Linked DNA regions of Homo sapiens: regions 2, 3 and 4 are each linked to region 1. Evidence: fine-mapped expression QTL. A gene starts in region 1. Each other region holds a variant in brackets. All regions are shown on one strand. Distances are between the middles of the regions.

Region 1 (4,834 bases):
TGCCCGCCTCGGCATCCCAAAGTTCTGGGATTACAAGTGTGAGCCACTGCACCCAGCCGAAAAAAGTTTTTTCCTTGATGCTTTTGTAACCGGTATATTAAAAAATATTTTGATTTTGGAATTGTCACTGAGGTGTAATTATGAGCTCTATGATCAGCAAACATGAGAATCTTGTCTCCTAAAACAGTAACCTTAATGATAGGCTTGTTCTTGCAACGCAGAGTTGCAAGTTTCAGGGATTGCTTTTAACGTCATGCATTTTTGGTCCGTTGTCATTAAAATACCCATTTAATAGTTTAACAATAATAAGGGCTCACCTTTAAAAATGACTGGAGAGCCGGGCATGGTGGCTCACGCCTGTAATCCCAGCACTTTGGGAGGCCGAGGCAGGCGGATCACGAGGTCAGGAGATTGAGATCATCCTGGCCAACAGGGTGAAACTCTGTCTCTACCAAAATACAAAAAATTAGCCAGGTGTGGTGGTGCGCGCCTGTAGTCCCAGCTGCTACTGGGGAGGCTGAGGCAGGGGAATCGCTTGAACCCGGGAGGCGGAGATTTGCAGTGAGCTGAGATTGCGCCACTGCACCCCAGCCTGACGACAGACACCATCTCAACTCCCCCCCTTGAAAAAAAAAACCCAAAAAACCTGGAGATTTGTAGTAAAAAAATCCATTTGTTTCTAGCATTCCAGTTTTTGTTTCATTTTGCTTTTGGACATTAAATAATATTACCTAGTTGCAGTCATCGGGAAGAACAGGATGGGGAGAGGATTATGACTGATGAGCATCTCGGCTCTAATTTGTTGCCAGATTAAGCAGTTAGAACTGTTCTTTCTTGAACGATATCTTGACTTTCAGCCTCGCCTTGGGAATTGGAGCCAGGGTTAATGATGGGGGCGGCTTTCTGGTGATGAGAAGTATTGTAAATCAGAGTTTTTCTACCGAAGGGCAGGGGACCTTTGAAAGGGATTAGAGAGGTGTTGGGGGGCTGGTAACTGAGGGGTGGGCGTGTCAGCTTAGGGCTTTCTTCCCTTGTTGGTCACCATTCATGGAGGCAGTTGGTCTGGAAAGAACGAGGAAGAGGCAGGTTTGGTTCAAGCCTCGGTGATCTGGGGCTCCCCCTGGCTAGCTGCTCTGTGGGGAAACACGGCCTTGGGAGGGGAGGCCCTTTGGTTTCCTGGCCTGCTTCCCTGAAGAGTGTTCCTTTCCCCTTGCAGGCGGCCAGCACTGGGCTGACCCGGCTTCTCTATCTACAGCGTAGTTAAAGCGGATCTGGGAGATGGAGGGGTTCCCAACACCCCAGTCTTTGGTTCCAGAAGGCTGGACCGACCTCTCCTTGCCCAGGGATGAATGCAGAGGGTCTTTTGTTTGGGGTTTGCTGGCAATAAAATTGAACGGGAAGAAGGGAAACTGCTGCCGATCCTGCGTGTCTCAGGTGGGTTCCCCCAGTGCCCCTGCGAGGCAGTGAGAGGGGGCCCTCCCTTCACGGGCCTTCTGGGGTTAGAGAGCTGGCGGTCGGCCAGCCCCTGGAACTTTTGCGTTCTTAAGGTAGCTTTAAGACTTGCCGCCGCGGAGACTGGAGGCGCTCATTTAAAATTCCAGTCTTGCTCCCGAGGGCTTTGGCCTCCATCTTCACCTTTAACGACCGAGGGCTGGTGGCGGCGGCTCCTTCCTGCTCTGCGACAGGTGTCGCTTCTGAGCGGGAGTTTTGGGCACAGACATCGCAGATCCGCACCACCCCTAGGGGTCTGCATGGGTTTCAGCTGCACCCAGCCTGGAGGGGCTTTTTGGAAGGGGGCACGTGGGCGGTGGGAGCGGGGAAGCAGGTGAGGGGAGCCCGCCTGCGCGGATTTTTCTGCTGTAAATCAGACCCACAGTCTCCAGAGCGTCTTTTCCCCAAGTGTGGAACACATTTTTCTTCTAATCCTCTTTGGAGAGGGGGTTAGGAACGTGCCGAGGCCGGAGCCGGGAGCGGGGTGGGTCCCGGCGCCTGTGAACCGAGTGGGGGAGCGGGCCGCGCGCTGCCCTGAAGACCCTGCCTCCGCGCCCTTGGGGGCTCGGGGCCCAGCGCCTTCGCAGGCGAGCGGCGGCGGCTGGCTCTGCCCGGGGTGCGCGGGGGCGGTGTTTCCTCGCCTCCCCCTGCGCCCGGGCTCGCCAAGCCCCGACTGCCCGCTCGGCCGTCGGGTCCGCGGGCGCGCGGACGCCTCGACGGCTCCCCCTGCCGGGGCGCCCCCCGGTCCCCACCCTCACCCGGCGGCTCAGGACTAGTCCCCCAACTTGTTCTCTGCTGTTAACTAGTCGCGCTGCCGGAACGATGGGATGGGGTTGCCACAGCAACCAGACTGGACGTCACAATCCGGGCATGTGTGCCGCCCCCCCGCCGTGCCGCCGTGCCTCTGGCGCTGCCGCCGCCACCCTCGGCCGGCTGCGGGACTCGGGCTGCGGGGCGCGGTGGGAGGAGCGCCCGGGCTTTGCGGGGAGCAGGCTAAGGCGGCCGAGAGAAAGGGGGGTCGAGACGGGGGGGTGGAGGTTTGGGGGGGTGGGGGGGCAGGCGGCCGCCATCTTCTCGCCGAGGCCGCCTCGCCCGCCGCGCGCGCCGGTCCGGCAGCGCACGGGTTAAGGCTGGCACCGCGCCCGGCGGGAGGGGGGGCGCCCACCTCCCCTCCTCCCCGCGCCGGGCATGCGGGGCCCAGTGGGCACCGAGGAGGAGCTGCCGCGGCTGTTCGCCGAGGAGATGGAGAATGAGGACGAGATGTCAGGTGAGCGGGGCGCGGGTGCGCCTGGGGCCAGAGCGGCGGGGGCGCCGAGACGGGCCGGGCCCAGGGCGGAGCGCGGGCGGCGGGGGCGGCGCGGCCGGGCTGGCGCCTCGCAGGAGGGGCACCCGGGTTGCGGGGCTGCGCTCCCGCCCTGCTGGCGCCGCGCGGCCAAGGGCGAAGGCTGGGTGAGCGCCCGGGCCGGCGTGAGGGCGGCTAAGGGCGGGGTGCGATCCGGGCCCCCCGGGCGGCGACGCGGGCCAGGCGGGCCAGAGGACCGCGGGCCGGGGCCTGCGCTGGGGGGCGCGGCGCTGTCAGGGTCAGCCCGCGTGCCCTTGAAGGGGGCGGGAATCGCGCTAGCTCCCGGAGCGGCGCACCCCGCGCTCGCGTCCCGCCGCCGTGCGCCTCTGGCCTCGCTGCGGGCAGGCGGGACCCGGCCCCTGGCCCATGTCGGCCGCGGGGCGGGCTGGGTGGGGCCCAGAGAGGGGCGAGGACCGGCGGTGCTTGGGGACGCGTTGAGCGCCCAGGATGGGGCGGCTTCCCTCCCGGCCCAGGAGGACTCCGCTCTGGGACGCACGGGCTCGGACCCCTGCTCCTCTTTCCTGGCCTCTGTGCGCTGTGACCGCCGCTCCCAAGCACTTTACCCGGGCCGCCGGCGTCCTTCTGGCGCGACCTAGCGCCCGCCGCTGTCTCCAGCCTCACCATCGCCCAGGGTGGTGGCCGTTCCCAGCCCACCCTGCCTTGGCTACGGGCCTGACGCCCCAGGGCCACCGCCCCTGCCCCTACCATCTCTCTCCTTTTATCTCTCTCAGAATTTAGTATACACAGGGCTGTGCGCCAGGGGTTGCCTTGCGGGACAGTTCTTTAGTTAACTGCTCACCATTTGTTTGGGACGTTTTCCCTCCTGGCACAGCTGGGTAGGGCCCCACCCTGTCAGCCACCCTCCCTCCTTTCTGGGAGACTCTTACTTCTCGGCTTCCCTGCGCCAAGTCTGTGGCCTCTCTGGACTTCGGAGAGACTTGTGGGAGGCTGGAGGCCCTCCCGGGCCCAGGAACGTGCATCTGGCCCCTTCTGACTTCCAGGGGTGAGAAGACTCCACAAATGGACACCTCCAGCTCCTGTTGGAGGAAGCAGCCAGCGTCTTCTGGGGAGGGTATTCCCACCAGGTGGCCACACCCCCTGCCCCCTTCTGTTTGCTTGCTTGGTTAGTTGGTGGCTTTAATGCTGTCACTGAGCTCCTACAGGAGCCCGGCACTCACCTCGCCTGTTAGACAGGCCAAGTTGGCAGCGAGCGTGCTGGGGACGGGGAATAGGGGAGTCCTCTCTTGGGGTGGAGTTGCCTGGACAATAGTTGACTGTCATATCCTGGGTCCTTGGAATTAGACCCATTCTCCGGAGGGGAACTCTGAGGCCCCGCACAGGCACAAAAAAAAATCAGTGGCCATTTTCCACCTAGGAGGCTGGCTCCCCAGTAAGCCAGTTTACTGGTTTTCTCAGCAAGTTGTTTGTTATGGTGTTTGGGGTGTGGCCCTTTTGTGGGATCAGTGGCATTTCTGGGGTTGCACCGACCCGCTGGTGGAGTCCCCTGGCTGTCTTTCCCATCTTACACTCCGGCTCTCTCTGACTATGTGGGGACTTAGAGGTTGGGGAGGGGAAGAGGCCAGGGAAGGTGCCCCCAGTCTAGTAGGCACCCGACTCACTGCTTGGGCCAGAGAGGCGGGGCTCTGGTCATCCTGCCCACCACCCGTGCTCCCCCTCGGTGGGTTGGCCCCAGAGCCTCCAGGAGTGCCCCCAGAGCCCTGCAGAAGAGACGCCCTGCTCTGGCACCTCTGGCCTGGGGATTCTGTCCCCATCCATCAGCAAGGCCAGCTGCTCCACCTCCAGAGCCTTTCCAGGCTCCTGGCTTCTCTCCATGTTCTGGGTCCAAGCCTCTGTCCCCTCCTGCCGGTCCCCTCCAGGGCCTTCTACCCACTCCTTCTGACCACCCACTGCACAGCAGCTGGGGTCACCTCGTGAACCCAAGTCAGATCCCGACCCGCATGGCTCCAGTCGCCTCTGAAACCCTTGTCCCGGGTCCACTCC
Region 2 (4,834 bases), 33 kb after region 1:
CATCCATCATCCATTCATTTGCCCATCCATTCATCCATCCATTTGGTTTATCCATATATCCATCCATTCTTTTGTCCATTCATCCATCTATACATCCATCTATCCATCCACTTGTCCATCCATCCATCCATCCATCATCCGTCCATTTGTCCATTCATCATCCATCCATCCTTCCATCCACCTATCCATCCATCCATTTGTCCATCCATCCATCCATCCATCAGTCCACCCATTTCCATTTGTCCATCCATTTGTCCATTCATCATCCATCCATCCATCCATTTGTCCATCCATTCATCTATCCATCCATTTGTCTATCCATCCATCATCCATTTATCCATTCATCTTTCTACCCATCCACCCACTCTCCTACCCTTCCTTCCTTCCTTCTTTCCTTTTATCCATCTTCTATCTCCTCACCCTTTTACCACCTCAACCATCAGTCTATTCACCCACCCACCTTTCCATCCACCCTCTATTAGACATCTACTCTGTGCCTGTCTGGCCTGGGGCGATGCAGTTGGTTGTGTGCTGGGAGTGTGGATGAGGACTTCCATGACTGCCTCTCCCCTACCCTAGTTGATGATGGTGACGGCTATGAGACAGACCACCAGGATTACTGTGAGGTGTGCCAGCAGGGTGGGGAGATCATCCTGTGCGACACCTGCCCGAGGGCCTACCATCTCGTATGCCTGGACCCAGAGCTGGAGAAGGCTCCCGAGGGCAAGTGGAGCTGCCCCCACTGTGTAAGCCTTGGCAGAGCCCCGGGCTGGGGGCGGGGCCACGCCTGGCTCCCCCACCCCTGTGCCCTCATTTGGGGGCAGAATGCGGGGAGATGCTGTAGGGGAGGGAGGGAGTCGGGCCTGGTGGAGCGGGGACCCCGCCCAGGGTGCCTCCACCTGGCCTCCTCCCCCAGGAGAAGGAGGGGATCCAGTGGGAGCCGAAGGACGACGACGATGAAGAGGAGGAGGGCGGCTGCGAGGAGGAGGAGGACGACCACATGGAGTTCTGCCGCGTGTGCAAGGACGGGGGCGAGCTGCTCTGCTGCGACGCCTGCCCCTCCTCCTACCACCTGCATTGCCTCAACCCGCCGCTGCCCGAGATCCCAAACGGTGAATGGCTCTGCCCGCGCTGTACTGTGAGTGTTCCGCCCGCCCCGCGCCGGACGCCCCGCCCCACCCCAGGAACAGGCCCCGCCCCCAGGGGAAGGCCTGCCCTCCTCAAAAGGCCCCGCCCCTGCCGGCTCCTGCCCCGCCTCGGTAGCCGATCCCGCAAAGCTTCGCCCGCGCTGCTCGAGACCCCGTCCACAATAGCTTCCTCGCGCCCTTCTCCGCGTCTGACTCCCCTAGAGACGGGAGGCATGAGTGTTAGGGAAAGGCAGACAGGTGTGGTGATCATGCCAACACCGCGACCACTGTTCAGTGACCACGTGCTCTGCAAGGGCTCCACATCCATCATAGTGTCCTTTAACATTACTGAGTATTCTGGCACCAGGCATGTTACTCCCTTTTTAGATGAGAAAACTGATGCTCAGGGAAGCAGAGTGACCTGCCTAAGGCCACACAAGGGCAGAACTATCCACTCAAATTCAGGTTCCTGGAGCCACCCCAGACCTGGCTCCTGTTCCAAGGCTGGGGATAGGGAGAGGGCAGGAGGCTTCTAGGGCAGGAGGCTCCTAGGGCGGGAGCCTCAGTTTCTACAGGAAGAGGGGCACCCCCCATCCGTCACCCCCCAGTCACAGTAGACATCGGAAGGCCCCTTGCTCTGAGCTGTCTGTCCTGCCCCCTGTGGTGCCAGATCCTCCACCCCTCAGGTCCTGGGCTGTGCCTCCTTTAGCCCTGGGCCGTCCTGTGTGCATTGTGCGTGTGTATGTGTGTGCGTGCATCCGTGCGCATACTTGTCTGTGTCTGTGTAGGGGCCAGGGGAGGACCCTTTTGAGGGGTGCAGCCTTCTGTGCTTTCCTAGGATTGATGGAAGGCCCTGGGGATGGGAGGGGGGCAGGAGTGGGGTTCCTCTCAGCTTCTTCCCTGAGGGGCTGGGATGGGGGTAGGAGGGTCCATGGCCTGGGTAGGAAGGGTCCCCTCTTCCACTCCCCCAAGAGCCAGTGGAGGAGCCTTTCCTGCCTCCCATGTCCTCCTCCTCCTCCTCTGCCTCTCGGCCTTTGCTGTCACCAAGGCCAAAGGAAGGCTGGCTGTGTGGTGTACCTTGCACCTCCAGAATGCCTTCAGGTGTGATGTGGCACCACAGATCTGG[T/C]AGGTGGAGGAAGGGGTGGGCCATTTTACAGATGGGAAAGCAGGCTCTGGAGGCTTGGATGAGTTTCCGAGGACAGGTAGTAGCAAAGCTGGGACCTGCTATCCCCACCAGAGCTGTCTCCCTGAATCAGTCACCCCCGACCCTGTCCAGTCAGACAGCACCGCCTCCTTGGAGGGCCAAGGCTGCTCCCACCCATCTCAGGGCCCGAGTGGTGTGGTTTGTGGCTGTTGTATTTCTTGCCTTTGCCAGCCAGCAGCTCACTGTCACCCTAGCATCTGTCAGGGCCCCTGCAGTGTGTCTGTGGGCTGCCAGAGATGGGGCCTCATTGTCCCAGCCTAGACGCACGGTGCCTGGGTGCAGCCCTGCCCCGGGTGAGGGATGGTGGATGGGGCTGCCGTGTCCCTGGGCTCCAGCACAGGGCTCATGCTCCCTGAGTGCTTGGGGATCACACAGTGATGTGACCTCTTTTCAGGGGGCAATGGGAAGACCTAAGGTAGGGGAAGTCCAGAATCTCATGTTCTGCTCCCTGCTCTGCTGTCCCTTGCCGAGTGGGCCTCAGTTTCCCCCTCTGTCCTATGCACATGGCAGTCTCACCTACGCTGGCTCAGATATTCTGGGTGCCGATAAGTTCACCATTGAGTGAAAGGGCCACGTGGTCTCACAGACCCCCACTGCCCATCTCCTGTGTGCATGACCCATGCGGCTCCTGGGGACGGGGTGGATGTCATGGCGTCACCGTGGTACTGTTCTGACTTGGGGGCAGTGGCACTGATGGGAGGGAGCCTGCATGGCAGCCTGCTGTCATGGGAGCCTCAGGGTGGGGCCCTGCAGCTGAGCCCCACCTTGGGGACCCTTCTCTGTCCACAGTGCCCCCCACTGAAGGGCAAAGTCCAGCGGATTCTACACTGGAGGTGGACGGAGCCCCCTGCCCCCTTCATGGTGGGGCTGCCGGGGCCTGACGTGGAGCCCAGCCTCCCTCCACCTAAGCCCCTGGAGGGCATCCCTGAGAGAGAGTTCTTTGTCAAGTGGGCAGGGCTGTCCTACTGGCATTGCTCCTGGGTGAAGGAGCTACAGGTGAGTGCCCGGGAGGGTGGCTGTGCTAAGGCCCGGGACCTGGTGAGCCCTGGACCCTCCTGGGCTGGCGGGAAGGGGCTGAAGCGCCTCTGACTGAGGGGTGCTGTTGGGAGTTGGGGTGGTGCTGAGCGGGAGGATTGTCCTGCCTGGGACCTGGGCTGGGGCTAGAGGAGCTGGGTAGGGAGATGCAGGGGACCATGGCCCATCTCCCTTCTGTGACTTTGTGCCGCTCCATGAGCAGCTGGAGCTGTACCACACGGTGATGTATCGCAACTACCAAAGAAAGAACGACATGGATGAGCCGCCCCCCTTTGACTACGGCTCTGGGGATGAAGACGGCAAGAGCGAGAAGAGGAAGAACAAGGACCCCCTCTATGCCAAGATGGAGGAGCGCTTCTACCGCTATGGCATCAAGCCAGAGTGGATGATGATTCACCGAATCCTGAACCATAGGTGTGTGCCTGCAGGCGGCCACCCTGCCCATCGCTGGGGCCGGGCCACGTCAGCTTCTTTGCCCTGTAAAATGGGTGCAGCGCAGGGTGCCAGGGCCCTTGCTTTGGGGCTGCCGTGCAGAACCACATGTGGGCACAGCAGGGGCACAAGGAAGGGCCCAGGGTTCCCAGTGCTGGAGATCTGCCTGACCTGCTAGAGGGGCCGTCCCATGCATGCCGGCACACTCATGCATACGTGTTCACACCCCTGGGGCGTCGGGACCCTCATGCTGGGTTAGTGCTTGATACCAGCAAGAGGGTTCTGAGGACGAGGGACGCCCGAGGTGTGGGAGTATGTCCACATTTCCCCCGCGTTTGTAACAGCAGCTGGCTGTACTGAGCACTGCCTACCCTGGGAGGGAGGCGTCTTACTTTCACCTCTGTTTTACTGATGTGAGAATAGGCACAGCAAGGTTAAGTCGCCAGAATCACACAGCCACGGGGTGGAGCTGGGATTTGAACCCCATGCTTTCTGACTGCAGGACCTGCTTTCTTAGCTACTGTTGCACCCCCCAGTGCCCCAGCAGCAGCTCTTCCTGGAGCAGTCTGGCAGTTCCCTGGGATGCCTTAGCAATCAGAGGCTGCAGGAGGCTGGCACAAAGAGCCAGAGGCAGGAGGCCCGTGGGCTTTGGTTTTGATTTGGTGGGTGGTGGGAATGCCTGCTGATTCTTGAGTTGAGGTGCTTGAGAACTGGTGGTGGCTGACAGATGGGCCTTGGGGTGGGGCCCAGAGTACCTGCTGCCTGGTGGCAGCTTGGAGCTTGTGCTCCCCATCCCAGCTACCCTGTGGCCTCTGTTTTTGAGGGGCTTAGGATCGGTGGCCTCTGACACTCAGTGCTTCTGGCTTCAGGCAGCTGTTGGGTAGAGCAGAGGTTAAAAGCCTGAGCCAGATGTTCAGATTTCAATCCCGGTTCCCATCTGCTGAGCTTTGAGGCCCTTTTAGGGAACAGGCTGCTGCACGGGTGACAGGAGCTTGCCAGAGGCTGGCTGTGGGTGGTCTTCAGTACGAGGGTCGCG
Region 3 (4,834 bases), 48 kb after region 1:
CCCTGCGGCCCCTTTGGTGCAGAGTCAGAGAGGAGAGGGGAGCCCACCAATGCCCCACCTCCTGCTGTGTCTGCAGGAGGCCCCTGTCTTGCCCAATGGCTCCTACGATGGAAGCTCCCTGGTCAAGTCTTCAGGGAAGCTCATGCTGCTACAGAAGATGCTGAAGAAACTGCGGGATGAGGGGCACCGTGTGCTCATCTTCTCCCAGGTGCGCTGCCCCTGCCCACCCCCGCCCCGGCTCCACACCCCACAGAGAGCATCCTGCCCTGATGCTTGGGGGCGCAAACTTGCTGGCACCCCTCAGGGCCCAGTGCCGTTCCCATGTGGGTCATGTGACTGTGTGTCAGGGGTCACTCCCCCGTGCCCTGGCATAATGCGGCTGAGGAGCTCAGAACACATTTGCCATAAAGAGCAACATCTCCCCACACCTGCCCTTCTGGTCTGCATGTCCAGGCTGGTAGGACAGCCCCTCCTCCCCTGCCCTGGCCCTCTCCCCCGCAGCCTGGCTTCTCATTAAGGTAGGGCCCTGGGGTGTGGTTGGGAGGAGCCCCTCTCTCCAATAGGCCCTGAGGGGCCACTGGCACCTGGCTTTTTGGCTTGGAGGCAGGGCCGCCGGCTCAGGTGTGTTCATTTCTTCCTCCATCCCTTTGTTTGCGTCTGTCATAGTCAGGCTCTGTGCTGGCACATGGGTGCAGGGACCAGTGATCTAGTCCCTGTCCTCAAGCTGCTCAGTCTACTGTGGGAGACAGCTCAAGGGACAGGTACCCGACCCTGTGGTCAGCTCTGTGTTGGAGGCCACAGTGATGATCCTACAGGGTCATGGGGCTAAAAATGCTCCTCTCGTGGGCCCACTGAGCCAGGCCCCTTGCTCAAACCCAGAGTCTGGGCTATGGCTCCTTGTGCACAAACATCAACTGAAAGCAGCGTCCGCCGCCTGCAGCCCCAGGTCACCCTGCTGGGCTGCTTCAGCCCGAAGAATACTGGAAAGCAGGGCAAGTTTGAGACCAGGGGCTGAGCCAAGGAGTGGGCTGGAGTGGAGATGGACCCACATCCCCCCAGTACCTCGGTACCAACACGAGACGCAAGTCTGATCAGAGGCCTTGAGATACCAAGTAATGGGAACCACACAGCTTCCAGAAATGTGCACACAGGGCAAGCGACAGAGACGGGGCCCTCCTGCCCAAAATGAGCCTATGAACCCCAATTCCAAACCCATACAAAAGTGAATGCTGAGACATCCCCCAAAACAATAAATAGAATCCAAATAAGAAAATAGGGGCTGGGCGCAGTGGCTCACCCTGTAATCTCAGCGACTTGGGAGGTTGAGGCAGGAGGATTGCTTGAGCCCAGGAGTTCAGGGTTGCAGTGAGCTGTGATCTTGTCACTTCACTCCAGTCTGAGTGACAGAGCAAGACCCTGTCTCTTGAGAGAGAGAGAGAGAGAGAGAGAGAGAGAAAAGAATAGGATAGCCTGAAAAGACTTTACATAGATGTGTTTAGGATCCTCAAAAATGATGGAGTAATTGACACCCTAAAATAAAGAAGAAATTAAGCAAAAGCAGGAAGAACTGAAATAGGAACAATTGGATAGAAACATGCATGAAATTGAGATAAAACATTTCAACAGACTGGACAGACTCTGAACACTGTTGAAGAGAACATTGATAAATTGGAACCTGGTGCTGAGGCATTTTCCCAGAATGCAATGTACAGAGACAAAGATAAAACAGGGAGAACATGGAAGACACCTTGAGATGCTCCAACAATCATCCAATTGGAGTTGCAGAAGAAACAGAAAAAATGGTGAAGAAGTTGGATTTGTTGAGAGTTTGCAGACCTGGAGAGAAATGTGAGGTCTCAGATCTGGAGTGCATTCTGGAATAGCAAGCAAGATAAATATAAATAAATGAACCCGTAGACACGTTAGAACCTCTAGGTACTTTAGACCTAGTACCTACAAAATAAGGGCAGCCAGATCGTTCTCAGACTTCTTAACAACAACAGGTGGCAGAGACCATGGCAAAATCTCCGGTGCACTGAGGGAAAATGTGTGCTGATAGTTTTATATCCAGCTAAACTCTCTCTCGAGAATAAAGGGAATTATACGGGGTCATGGGAGCTCAGAAGGGACTGCCTTTCTTTTCTTATGGGGAGGAGTGAAATCAGGGAAGACATCACAGAGGTGATGTTTATGTTCCCTAGGCAGTAAGGGGGTGGGCATTCCAGGAAGAGAGTCAGGTAGTTTGGAATGGCTGGGG[GC/C]TGTGAAGGAGCACTCGTCCTGCAGCGCCTTGAATACAGGGCAGTGAGATGGAACTTAATTCTGTGTGGTGGGAGCAGGGGAGGCTCATGTCAGAGCCCTGATTTAGGTAAGTGGCTGTGGGGCTAGGCAGGAGGATGGATTGGCTCCAAGGGGTGAGGTTGGAAGCTTTGTTCTTCCCCAGAGTCCTGCATTGGGCCTGCCTGGGTCCCAGCTGTCTCCCCACCTAGCAGGCAGCTCTCTCCTCCCCTGCCTGTGGCGGGGTCCCCGCCCATGGCCCATGGGGCCCCTTGCTCCTTGGCAGTTCCTCACGTGCCCGTCTCCCCTGCAGATGACCAAGATGCTGGACCTCCTGGAGGACTTCCTGGAGTACGAAGGCTACAAGTATGAGCGGATTGATGGTGGCATCACCGGGGGCCTCCGGCAGGAGGCAATCGACAGATTCAATGGTACCCCCATCCTGCCCAAGGGTTCTGATTGAGACTCCTTTTTGGCCTCTTCTCCCAGGCCTGGTTCTTAGCCAGGTCACCCAGCTGGTGTTGTGTTGAGCAGCCTCACAAACAGCTAAAGACAGCAGGCCAGTCCGAGTTTCCAATGTTAAAAGGATTCCTCCCATGGAATCGGAGTTCTGAGGGGCCCAGTAGATAACACCTGTTGGGAATGGAGTTAGACAATGAGAAACGCAGACGGGGCCTCTAATATTGACGCCAGGTGAGCCCCAGTTACAAGTGGTGTTGGACAGAGCCTGCCGTATGGTGAATGGTGGCAGAAGGTACAGAGATGCACGTGCTACCTGGGGCCACTTCCAGAGGCAGGAGAGAGTGAAAGGGCTGGGCCACACATGATCAGGCTCTTTCCCCAGAGTCACCCATGCTTGGTCTTCCCTGCCTGGGAAGGAGAGGCGAGGGTGGAGGTCAGGAGGGTCTTGCCGGTGGAGTTCCTCCTGTAGCAAAAGAAACTTCTGGAGTGGGAAGCAGTCGGCTGTAAGCTTCAGTAGCAAGTTTGCAGCAAATAGTAACAAGCTTTGTTTCCCTGGGGCGTCAGCCCTTAGGGGCTGGGGCCACGCTCTCCAAACGCCCAAAGCAGTGATTCCTCTCAAACACTTGTGCCAGAGAGCCAGGAGGAATAGCAAGTTCAGAGTTTCAGGGTCTAGACGTGGCCCAGCCACATGTGGAAGCAGGAGTGGCTGAAGCCCTGGGTGTGCCAGGGGCCTGTTTGCAGCTCCAGTGGGGGCTGTGGTCAGTCCCAGGTCACTGAAGGGCCCTGAGAGGCTGAGAACCAGCCATCCTGTGACAGGGTTGCCCAGTGGGGTGGGACCCCAGGTCCCGGAGCTGCGCCCCTGAGTTTTCCCGGGCTGCCCTGGCAGCATCGGTGGGCTAAGGGAAGCCAGGGGTGGGAAGCTGCGGGGACATGAAGGACTCTGAGCTCTCTAGGGCTCTGCTTGTACTTGCTGGCGGCTTGCACTTTGTTTTTTGCTCATCTGGGGTTTGAAAATTGACCTCCTCGTTCCAGTGCCCTCCCACTGCACTAGGGCTCAGAGCTCGCTGGGGGCTAAGTGGGCTTGGGCAGGCCTCCTCTGGCTCCCCTGAGTGCAGCTGTGGCCACCCGTCTCTGATGGGGTCTCCGGCTTTGTCCTTCTCTGCCAGGGATCTGTTGCTGCAGTTCCTTCTCTCTGTTCTCTCCCCCATCCTTTCTGCCCACCCAAGGTGTACCCCCCCAAACACTCCCATCTGCTGGCCTCTCTTTTTCAGCCCCCGGGGCCCAGCAGTTCTGCTTCCTCCTCTCAACCCGGGCAGGTGGTCTGGGCATCAACCTGGCCACGGCGGACACTGTCATCATCTACGACTCGGACTGGAACCCGCACAATGACATCCAGGTCTGTGCTGCTGCCGCCCACCACCCTCCCAGGGGGCCTCTCATCCCGGGCCTCAGGCAGGTTCTGTCCTTCATGCCCTTCTTGCCATCACCCCCTCACCTATCCTGGTGCTGTGGGCCTCCCTCCCCCGTGGAGTCTCGGCCCCAAGAGGGGCTCTGGGAGTGAGTGGAAGCTTGGCCCCCATCCCTCCAGCTCTGTCCTTGTCCAGAGGAGGAAGCAGGCTTGGAGAGGGCAGGGGAAGTGTCCCAGGGCGCACAGCAGTTCCTAGTGGCCACTGATCTGGTCTTTCCCATCATCCTCAGGACCAAGGCCGTGGAGGGAGGCAGGAAGAGGGAGCCCTGGGACCCAGAGGGGCACCCATTTTGAAGGGGGTGGGGAGCAGAGAGTGGGGCCTGTTGGAGGTGGAGGGGAGGATAAGATAGTGCAAGGGGCAGATGGGGCTGTAAGGAAGGATGGAAGGGCTGTGGGGGGAGGGGTATGGGAATAGAGCCACCCTAGTGTACCTGGCCACCCCTCTCGGGCGCTGGGACACACACATTGAATGCTTACAAATGTAGGGGAACACATACAAATTGATGTCTCATTCACATGTGTGTGCGCCCATGCACATACACAGATATACACGGCCACACCCAGGTCACCTCATGTAGGGCTGCACAGAGTCTCAGGCACTTCCTTGTATTATACTGGGCAGATTCAGCT
Region 4 (4,834 bases), 25 kb after region 1:
GCTGTCACAGAACAGGAGGCAAGAATGGGCTCTGGAGGCCTCCCGCAGCCTGGATGGGCAGACTGGTTCTCAGTGCTGGGAGACGCTCAGGGCAGCCTCCTGTTGCAGGAGCAGAAGCCCAGCTCCGGGGCCTAGGCAGTAGAGGGATGTGTGGGATCAGGGCCCTGAGAACTAAGAGGCAAGGGGCTTCGGGGTTGTGGGACCCAGTGGTGTTATCAGAGGCTGTCTCTTTGCATCATTCACTCTGCCTCTGCTGTGGCAGTGTTGGGCTCAGGCCAGGCACCCTCATGGCTGAGCATTCTTGTGGCTGAGAATGAGGGCAGCAGCAGCTCGGGGCTTCTTGGCCCCTCCAGCAGGAGGGAGAGCAGGCCTCCCATGTCCAGGTATGCAGGCAGGAGACCAGCATTCCCTCTGATTGGACTGGCTTAAGACATGACTGGCCTGACCAGACTTTGGCCTAGGAGTGGTGTGTACTGATTGGCTTAATGTATCAGGTTGGGTGGGGGCAGCTCAGGGCTGCTTGGAAGAAGTGGGGTGTCAGGGAAGGAAGAAGAAGGGTGGGTTGGGTGCTAACAATTGCTAACGCATTTTGACACACCCTGTTCCAAGCACCTGCACTAAGTCATTCTGTTCTGCAAGGCAGTGTGCCATTATCTCCATTTTACAGATGGGGAAACCGAGGCAGGAAAGTTAAGTAACTTATCCACTTCTTACCACCGGTATGTGGCAGAGCCAGGATCAGAACCAGCCCATGCCCACATCCGGCACCTCCCTTTCTGAGCCCCGCCAGCCCGGGCCTGGTCATCTGGTCACCTGACCCCTGGGCTAGCTCTCTTGAGAACTCACTGTGCCCCTGGGATGTCCCCCCACCCCAGGCCTCAGCAGTAGTTGGATCCTCTCAGGGCTGTGCCCCCAGGATGTCCCTCCACCCCAGGCCTCAGCAGTAGTTGGATCCTCTCTGGGCTGTGCCCCCAGCTGGCCCATTGTCCCATGCCCCTGCCCCAGCAGAGTGCACTTTCCTTTCACTGGAAACTGGCAGTGGCCTGTCCTTCACAAGGGCTGACGTAGCTATACCTGGCATCCTGGGGAGGCCTCATGTCTTTTTTTTTTTTTTTTTTTTTGAGACAGAATCTTGCTCTGTCACCCAGGCTGGAGTGCAGTGGCGCCATCTCGGCTCACTGCAACCTCCGTCTCCCGAGTTCAAGTGATTCTCCTGCCTCAGGCTCACAAATAGCTGAGATTACAGGCACACACCAACACACCCAACTAATTTTTGTATTTTAGTAGAGACAGGGTTTCAGCATGTTGGCCCGGCTGGTCTCTAACTCCTGACCTCAAATGATCTGTCTGCCTTGGCCTCCCAAAGTGTTGGGATTACGGGCGTGAGCCACCACCCCTGGCCTGGAGGCCTCATGTCTTTCTAAAGTGGCTTAGGCAGCCCTGGAGCCCTGCGGCCTCATCAGGGACATCTTCCCGTCTTCAGGCCACTGTGCTGTCCTGCTGTCCAAATCCCCAGAATGCAGTCCCCACAGAGGGCAAGTTCTGTTGTCCTGCCCTGGTGTCCCGAGGCTGGTCGGGCAGCCCTATCTCAGGATGGGGGCCTGGTCTCAGGCATCCAGTCTCCTTGCCCACACCTGGCTGATTTCCCTTTCTGGAAGTTCAGGGCACACACATGGCCTCTCCCCAAACCCTGACGTCGAACACTTGGCCTGCACTTCGTGGGCTGGCATCTGAGACGTGGCACAGATTGGGGGCTGCGGGGCTGCGGGGCTGCAGGGCTTGAATGTTTCCTAGGGTGGGTGAGAATGGTCTGGTTACATTGCAGACACAACCCCTCCTCTTTCCCCTGTGCCAAAGCCTCCTAGGCAGAGACCCTGGGGATGGGGGTGCAGGTCAGAAGGCCCCTCAACAACTCTACCTCTGGCCTGGGTCTCTGTAGGAGCCCAAGTCCTCGGGGCAGCTCATGGCCGAGTGGGGCCTGGACGACGTGGACTACCTGTTCTCGGAGGAGGATTACCACACGCTGACCAACTACAAGGCCTTCAGCCAGTTCCTCAGGTGGGCGGGGCACTAGGGCTGTTCTCCAGGCCCGCACATCCTCTGGTGGTACCAAGTCGGGAGGGAGGCAGAGGAGTGAAGCCCCGGCACCTGGGGTAGGGGTGGGCTCTGTCAGACCGACTGAGCAACCT[G/A]GGGGAGCTGGAGGGAGGGGGCAGGACCCCTTCATGTTAACAGACCACCAGGCCTTCCCTTGTGGGCCCTGCCCCTCAGCCCTTGAGTCTCTTCCCCTTGGGGAAGGTGGTTCCAGTCTTTCCTGGGGGGTCTTTCACCACCATGGCCTCTCAGCTCTGGTAGAGGTGGGACGGAGACCCCAAGGCCCACTGTAGCCCACCTGTGGCCCCACAAGTCTTGCAGGGCCTGAAAACCCAATGAGAAAATCACCAACTGTGTGGACAGGAAGCTGGGGTGTTTTGGGGGTGGGCTGTGGGTGTGGACAGGAAGCTGGGTGTTTTGGGGGTGGGCTGTGGGTGTGGACAGGAAGCTGGGTGTTTTGGGGGTGGGCTGTGGGTGTGGACAGGAAGCTGGGGCGTTTTGGGGGTGGGCTGTGGTCAGTGGGTTTCCCGCCTAATCTCTCTAATCAGGAACCTGGGGCTGCTGCCATAGATCGCACATGTGGCAGAGGGGTGGGCCCTGCCGGGGGTCGGGTGGGCCTCTCATCTCACCTGGCCTTGCCCTCACCCTCCTGCCTCTCCCCCTACAGGCCACTCATTGCCAAGAAGAACCCGAAGATCCCCATGTCCAAAATGATGACCGTCCTGGGTGCCAAGTGGCGGGAGTTCAGCGCCAACAACCCCTTCAAGGGCAGCTCCGCGGCAGCAGCGGCGGCGGCGGTGGCTGCGGCTGTAGAGACGGTCACCATCTCCCCTCCGCTAGCCGTCAGCCCCCCGCAGGTGCCCCAGCCTGTGCCTATCCGCAAGGCCAAGACCAAGGAGGGCAAAGGTAAGGCTGGGGTTGGGTGGGCACCTAGTCCCGCTGGGAAGAGGTCCCTTTCAGACCCTATAGGAGAAGCCACGGGGCAGACGCGGGCAGGGAGGGGCAGCTGGGGTGCTCCTAATGGAGGGCTCTGTGCCTGTGTGACCTTGGATTGCCCGGTCCTTTCTCAGCAGTGAGGCAGCATCGTCGCCTCTTTTGTGCCTGACTCCCTTTTGGGGTTGGTGGAGAAGCAGAGGCGATGATGTGGGCAGAGGTCTGGGAGGTTTGAGCCTGGCCAGCCAGGAGGTGCCCCCGACGTGGGCCTGGAGGGAGGGCGGGACCAGAGGTACGCAGAGTGGAGCCGCTCCAGCCTGGGTTTCTGGGAGTTGGCAGGCTCTTGGGTTTGAGCCTGTGCCGTTTCTGGGGAGGAGGAGGAGGCCCCAGTCGAGCCCGTCTCTTCTTCTTGTCTGCATACCCACTGTGTGCAGGGTTGTTCTCCAGGCCCTCGGCCAATGTGGAGCATGGAGGCCCTGCCCCTCCAGCTTTAGGATCCGGGAAGCAGGCAGGAGTTGGAGGGACTGGGCACGGCCAGGTCTCGCTTCCCAGGGAGGCTGTTCTGGGACAGGCCTGGAAGGAGATCGAGATCCAAATTCTGCCTCAGTGGCAGGGCGTCTGGGTGGGGAGGATGCAGGCAGCAGAGGCCCCCTGTGACTTGAAGGCCCTGGGGAGGGAGCTTTCTGGGTGCAGGTTTCTGGCCTTTTGGAGGCTGGGGATGTTGATCTCCCCAGGGCTGTCAGTCACCTGCAGCTCAGCTTTCCTGGGTGCCCTGATTTGTTTTGTTTTGTTTTGTTTTGTTTTGACAGACTCTCACTCTGTCTCCCAGGCTGGAGTGCAGTGGCACGATCTCTGCACACTGCAACCTCCGCCTCCTGGGTTCAAGCAATTCTCCTGCCTCAGCCTCCTGAGTAGCTGGGATTACAGGAGTGCATCACCACACCTGGCTAATTTTTTGTATTTTTAGTAGAGACGGGGTTTCACCGTGTTGGCCAGGCTGGTCTCAGAACTCCTGACCTCAGGTGATCTGCCCACCTCGGCCTCCCAAAGTGCTGGGATTGCAGGTGTGAGCCACCGCGTCTGGCTGATTTGGGTTTTGATGGAAGGGGCTGAGGGGGCTCCGGGGATCCCTTCTTTCAGCCCCAAGGAGCTTTAGTTTCTGGGGTTCTGTGTCTGGCATCACCATGCCAAGTCTCTGAAGGGAGCCTGGTGGGTGAAGTGACAAGGGTCAGAGTCTGTTCCCTGTCCTGCTCCATCTGTCTGGGCCATCAGGATCTCGGGAGGGGCTCCTGGCCCGCCCCTGTCTGCCCAGCCTGCCTTGTTTTCTCATTTCCTCTCGCGCTCCAGCTGCTGAGCTATCGATTCCATGAGCTGCTTATTCAGAGCTTGGAAAATTGAAATAGATTTTCCGCGGCGCCATGGAGGGTGCAGCTGGGCTCCTAGCTCCATGTCCGTGTGTGTGGTGTGGCCAGAGGACGGCCTGGGGAGAGGCTGCCTCTGTGGGGTGTGCATCCCTGCCTCCAGGCCCCCCTTCCTTCTTGGGTCATTACTCCCCAGGTAGCTAATTGCCCTGTGGCCAGCTCCATAAAAACAGCCTCAGCCCTGCTGGCCCTTGCTGGGGTTGACTGGCAGAGGTGGGGCAGTCTTGGGTGGGACCAGCATTGCCTGGCTGGCAGGTGGGAAAAGGCCTTTTGGCTCCAAGACATCCTTTGGGGGCTCAGGCATGGACCACAGGTGGGCGGCTGTGCCTTCAGTGGCCCTGCTGGCTGTGGGGGATGGCTAGTGCCTCCTTTCAGTGGTTGGAGACGGT

Evidence for each region.
Region 2: its variant is fine-mapped to the expression of CHD5 in whole blood (TOPMed, PIP above 0.99).
Region 3: its variant is fine-mapped to the expression of CHD5 in whole blood (TOPMed, PIP above 0.99).
Region 4: its variant is fine-mapped to the expression of CHD5 in whole blood (TOPMed, PIP above 0.99).

Annotation. Positions count from the first base shown.
Region 1 is chr1:6,177,869-6,182,702 of GRCh38, reverse strand. It overlaps CHD5 (chromodomain helicase DNA binding protein 5), which reads left to right and starts at 2,382. Exons shown (of 42, transcript NM_015557.3): 1 at 2,382-2,758. The coding sequence starts at 2,680. RefSeq lists enhancers at 3,125-3,624, 3,625-4,126.
Region 2 is chr1:6,145,158-6,149,991 of GRCh38, reverse strand. It overlaps CHD5 (chromodomain helicase DNA binding protein 5), which reads left to right. Exons shown (of 42, transcript NM_015557.3): 8 at 580-746; 9 at 917-1,138; 10 at 3,121-3,327; 11 at 3,569-3,780. Among named protein-coding and RNA genes, the nearest start is that of CHD5, 33 kb to the left of the region's middle. The variant T/C (reference allele first, on the strand shown) is at 2,254.
Region 3 is chr1:6,129,502-6,134,335 of GRCh38, reverse strand. It overlaps CHD5 (chromodomain helicase DNA binding protein 5), which reads left to right. Exons shown (of 42, transcript NM_015557.3): 20 at 77-208; 21 at 2,588-2,705; 22 at 4,008-4,132. Among named protein-coding and RNA genes, the nearest start is that of CHD5, 48 kb to the left of the region's middle. The variant GC/C (reference allele first, on the strand shown) is at 2,258.
Region 4 is chr1:6,152,823-6,157,656 of GRCh38, reverse strand. CHD5 (chromodomain helicase DNA binding protein 5) reads left to right here. Exons shown (of 42, transcript NM_015557.3): 4 at 1,940-2,058; 5 at 2,759-2,997. Among named protein-coding and RNA genes, the nearest start is that of CHD5, 25 kb to the left of the region's middle. The variant G/A (reference allele first, on the strand shown) is at 2,190.